2 separate regions of the Homo sapiens genome follow, and region 1 is linked to region 2. The links come from fine-mapping of genetic effects on gene expression. A gene starts in region 2. The other region holds a variant in brackets. All regions are shown on one strand. Distances are from middle to middle.

Region 1 (2,500 bases), 50 kb after region 2:
TTCCCGGCCAGCCCTGACCTGGCCTGTCGCTGTCTCAAAGCTGGGTGTCTCCTGGGTCTCTCGTGTGCTCCTCCGGGAAACCGACCTCCTCTGGGATGGGCCCGGACATCGAGGGGCGGGTTCCTGAGAGCCGTCGGGGTTCTGGTGTGGGGGTGGCCAGGGACATGGAGAGCCCGTGGCGACAGCATCCCAGCCACGCTGCTTCAGCAACCAGTGACTAGACACGGGACGCTTTTCCCGTGTGCTGCTCGCGTTACGCCTGCCCTGAGCGGAGTCTCTGTTTCAGGACAGCCTGGTGTATGTGCTCAACCGGGACCGGCACACGGTGGGCCAGCGGACCCCCTCCAGCAAGCCCAGCATCAGCCTCTCAGCCCCCGACATCCTGCCTCTACACTGCACCATCCGCCGGCAACCGCTCCCGGACAGCGGCCAGGCCGCGGGGAGGCTGGTCCTGGAGCCCATCCCCGGGGCGCACATCTCCGTCAACTTCTCCGAGGTGGGGCACAGGACCGTGGTGCTGCACCACGGGGACCTGCTCTCCCTGGGGCTCTACTACCTGCTGCTATTCAAGGACCCCGCGCAGGCCCAGCCCCTGCCCGCCCGGGCCTTGGCGCGCCTCCGGGCTGTGCCGCAGAGCTGCCGGCTGTGCGGGGCCGCGCTCGGGGCCCGGGGAGCCGCCTCCCCTACTCAGGCCGCCCTGCCCCGGCGCCAGCAGCTGCTCCTGGAGTTTGAGCCCCACCTGGAGGACACGCTGCTGCAGAGGATCATGACGTTGATCGAGCCGGGGGGCGACGACCACAAGCTGACCCCCGCCTTCCTCCTGTGCCTCTGCATCCAGCACTCGGCCACCCACTTCCAGCCGGGCACATTCGGGCAGCTCCTGCTCAAGATAGCCAGGCTGATCCGCGAGACTGTCTGGGTCAGTGTGCTGGGGTGGGCGGTCTGGGTCCTGTGCCGGTCTGGGGGAAGAGGGGGCCCGGAGCTGGCCCCGGCTGGGAGGCGGGAGCGCCTCTATCTGACCCCCACGGTGCTGTGCTGCTGAGCGCAGGGCGGCCTTTCCCTGCCTGTCGCTGCCCCCCAGCCCCACAGGCCACCAGAAGCAGCCCCAGAACCCAAGGTGTCAGCTGCAGCCCTTTGCCCCTGAGGGTGGGGTTTGCGTGGGGTCCTAGGTCACCTCCTGAGCTCTGGGCTTGTACCCTCCCTGGGGTCCAGCTGGGCCCAGCACTGTCACGTGCCAGGAGTGAGCTGCCCCTGAGCCTGGGCACCACGAGGCCGAGGTGACATTGATAGCTCTCACAGGCCCCTGCCCAAGAGCCCCAGAAGCCCCTGTGTGTGCCGGCGCCCTGTGCTTGCTGCCAGGGGCCGGTTGAGCACATACCCGCTGGAGCCATCCCTGATCCGAGTTTGGAGGTGCAGGGCCCGTCACCTTTTGTGCGTTGACGAACTTTCCTCCAGGCCAGCCTCTCTCATCCCCGGCCCTGTGGACACTGTGGCAGGAGAGCTCCTTGCTGTGAGGCTGGCCTGTGCATTGCAGAGGATTCAGCAGCATCCC[C/T]GGCCTCCACCCCTAGATGCCGGTCACCCTCTGCCGCCCCGCCACACACACACACGCAATACACCCATGGCTGCAGGCATTGCCAATGTCCCCAGGAATCCAGTGTGGCCGCCAGTGAGCAGGACCGCCCTGGGCCCATGAGTGCTGGAACAGGCATCACACAGTCATGGCCCCCCGCTGGGCCCCACCCCACAGTGACTTGGCTCCCAGGGACCCGAAGGACAACTCGTAGTTGTTCAAGTTCGTTCAGAGACCCTCAGATCCTCGCTAGTCTGGGCCCCGCTTATCCCCGGCAGACAGGGGAAGGGGGAACCACTTGACTGTGTAGAAACCTTATCACTTTCTCATATCGAAATCCACATTTTAAATGTCTGAGACTTTTAAAAAGTAAAAGCCAGCTCAGGCTTCCCTGTCCAGATGTCAGTGGGAGCCGTCTCTGTGCACCGTGGGTGTTGTAATCTGGGTGTCCGTGCCTCTTCCCCTCGGGTTCCCGGCTTGGGATTTGATGGGAGTGCCACTGCAGCGTGCCCGTGTCCCCTCCGTGCAGTCATGGACACAGGGCCAGGTGATGTCCCTGTAGTGTGTGTCCACATCGTGGCCACTGTGACCGAGAGTTACCTGCTGGCCAGAAGTCATGGGTTTTCGCACGATCATTGTCATTTCCCGAGTCTCCTCTGCGCCAGGCACTTACTTGCAAACCAAACGCTGTTTAATTTCTTTATCACAACCACCCTGACGATGTAGATGCCACACCCCATGTCACAGCCAGGGAAACTGAAGCCAGGGGGCCGTAAGTCACTTGCTGAGGGACCCGGGTCCCAGCCTGTGTCCCAGCCACCTGGGGCTCGCTGTGTGGCTGGCCCACTCCCTGCAGCACACCAGGGCTCACCCTGCCCCTATGCTACAGGCTCTGAAACAGAGGCTCCCAGAGGTGAATTGCCTGGTCCA
Region 2 (3,004 bases):
GAAATATTCAAGCACGTCATTCCTTTCAAGCATCCCTTCCTGGGGTAGGCGAGGAGGTTGGTGTGTATACAGAGGGTCCTGTATTCCTGGCTCAGTTCTTGTCTCTACCTCCAGCAGCCTGACCTCTCTGCGTCTCTATTTTCTCATCTGAAAAATGGGAGTATTACTGAACAAAAGGGTTCTGCGCTTGCTCTGCTAGAAGCCAATCTTGATCAGGTGCAGAGGTTCATGCCTGTAATTCCAGCACTTTGGGAGACTGAGGTGGGTGGATCACCTGATGTTAGGATTTCAAAACCAGCCTGGTCAACATGGCAAAACCCCGTCTCTACTAAAAATACAAAAATTAGGTGGGCGTGGTGGTAGGTGCCTGTTAACCTTAGCTACTCGGGAGGCTGAGGCAGGAGAATCGCTTGAACCTGGGAGGTGGTGGTTGCAGTGAGCTGAGATCACACCACTGCACTCCAGCTAGGGCAATAGAATAAGACTCTGTCTCCAAAAAAAAAAAAAAAAAAAAAAAAAAAAAAAGCCAATCTTACTGCATTAAGTTTTTGAGACAAAAGCTTTTTTTGTCCGTATTGTGAGTTGATCAATAAGGAGACAGGAGCCTGGCTCAAATCTGTCTCTCTGTGTTGACTTTGAGGCACTATTTTTTATTAGAAAAGGTTTAGGAGGTGGACTTTAGGATTAGCAGGTGATAGGTGGAGGAAAGGGGAGGCCTGGAATGTCTCAGACATCTCTGTCTCACAAGAATTGATGTGAGCATTAAGTGAGGTGACCTAGGTAAAGTTGCCTAGGGCCTGGCACACAGGTGGTCAATAAATGTCTGTTCCCACACTCATCAATGTCTGCTCCGACCTCCATCGCGAATATGGGGTCATGACTACGGAAATCATACCACGATAGCTGTCCACAAAAAGGTTCACTCCCGAGGCCCACATTCTGCATATTGATATTCCGAACCACCTGAATCTCCCAGGTCTAGCCCACATTCCTCAAAGGGAAAACCCCAGCCAAAGTGCCGAGGTCACGAGCTGCTTTTTAAACAAGTCCCCAGGGAGAGCAGTTGGGGCCAGAGCCCCAGAGCTGACCTGGTCATTTTTTTGCATAATTGTAAGCAGGAATGCCATGACCTGATTTGTCTTTTAAAACTCTGGGTGGGAGACAGATGGTAGGGGAGAGGAAATTCCTCCCTTGTTCCTTTTCGATGTCTTAGAAGATGTTTATTAATTGGGGGCACAGCTCTACCCTCCCCTACACCCACTCACTGGGCTACTAGAAGGTGCTGTCTCGAAATAGCCCACCCAACCGCAGGAGCCCAGAGCCCACAAGCAGCTCAGGGACTTAGAACTGGTCCCACCCTTCCTCCGGGGACCCCCCCTCCTTAAGCTGCAGTCTGTGGGTGGGCTGCAAGTCCCGCCTCTCCACAACCAGCCCCACCCCTTTCTTCAAAACCCCGCCTCTCCGGTGAGGCCCCGCCCCCTCGAGGCTGCATCCCCGTCCATTGGGCGGCCGGCAGGAGGCGCCAGAGCACAGCCCGCCTTTTCTAGCAGGTTGGCCCCGCCCCTCTCCTGGAGACCCCGCCTCCTCGAGGCTTTCTTTCTGCCTATTGGGCGCCGAGGCCCAGCTCCAGCCCACCTGTTCTCCCCCGCCCCACCCTTTGTGGCCCCGTCCCCTTGAGGCCCCGCCCCGCCCGTTGCGCCGCCGGCAGGAGGCGCCGCGGCACGCGCGGGTCTGGGCGCCGGCCCCAGCCAACGGCGGGTGGGAGCAGCGCGGGAACGTGGCGGCGCGGCGGGTTGTGCCGGAGGTGAGTGTGGGGTGCGCGAGGAGTGACTGCGGAACCGGGGGTGGCTCGTAAGGGGCGCTGCTCGGCCGCTGCCGGGGACCTGGGGCGCGGAGGCCGCGGGGCGCGCTCGGGGACACTCCCGGCCGCTGGTCGGGGCGCGGAGGGCAGGTTTGCCCAGTTGCCATGGGAACCGACTGGCTGTCGGGCCCCGGCCTGGACCGGGGGGCGGTACCCGGAGGCCGGCTAGCGCGGGCAAGGGCGGCCCAGCCTGCGGGGATCCGGGGGTCCGCGCTGCCGACCCCCGAGAGCTCCTGAGCCTGGCTGTCCGCGTGGGCCCCGGACCCCCAACTCCAGGGGACTCTCGGCCCTCAGTTTTCCCGGCTGTGCCCTGGAGGGGGAGCTTCGTCCGGGGCGCGCAGCGGGGGAGCGGGGCGCAGCGGGGGAGCGGGGCGCAGGGTTCCGCGCGCTCTCCCACCTGGGCCGGCGAGACGTCCCCTGCACATACCCCGTCCCGGTTGCAGCCCGATCCCCACTCGTGCGCCAGCTCAAAGCATTGTTTCCCGGCTATTTATGTACCATTTCCAGCCCCTCGACAAATACTGCATCCAAGATAACAGATGCTGAGCCGAGCTCCTGGGGCCTCGCAGGAGGAGCCTGTTGGTGGGGTTGGCAGGGCCCTGGCGGGGCTGCGGACCATCCTGCCCTGCCCTGTCGCCTGTCAAGTGTTTGGCTAATCTGAATTGCACAGAAGAATCTGATTGCTCGTGTCCCGCGGTTAATATAGGCCACCTCTTGTGCATTCCAGACAGGAACCAGTCTTGAAAGTCCCTTTTGCTGGGGGGCAAGTCGGTCTCCTCTCCAGCAGCTAGCAGGTCAGAATTAAATCTGATTGAATTATGTTTGCATTTGAAAGCGTGGCTCGGGCTGGGGCTGTAAAGATAGGATTCATGGAAGGAGGGGAGAGAGCTGAGTGTGTAAAGTCTGCGCTTCGTTTTCCCTCCTGCTGGAAATGATAATGGGTTCCACATTGTCCTGTTGGAGCAGAGAGGTCGCTCCACCCATGTCGTCAGCGCAGCACTGACCTCACTCCCTGTACTCGCCGCTGGGACTTGAGCTTGTTTTTCATCAGAAACTGGACCCTTCCTTGAGAACAAGAGAAAACATTCTCTAAGAGCAGCACCAGCCAGCGCCCCACACCCTCGCTGTCCGAGCCCTGCGCTT

What was found.
Region 1: its variant is fine-mapped to the expression of RADIL in lung (TOPMed, PIP 0.91).

What each region holds. Positions count from the first base shown.
Region 1 is chr7:4,833,026-4,835,525 of GRCh38, reverse strand. It overlaps RADIL (Rap associating with DIL domain), which reads left to right. Exons shown (of 15, transcript NM_018059.5): 4 at 287-919. Among named protein-coding and RNA genes, the nearest start is that of SNORD165, 3.2 kb to the left of the region's middle. The variant C/T (reference allele first, on the strand shown) is at 1,553.
Region 2 is chr7:4,882,396-4,885,399 of GRCh38, reverse strand. It overlaps RADIL (Rap associating with DIL domain), which reads left to right and starts at 1,684. Exons shown (of 15, transcript NM_018059.5): 1 at 1,684-1,804. RefSeq lists a silencer at 1,653-1,872 and enhancers at 1,582-2,269, 2,270-2,958, 2,688-2,982.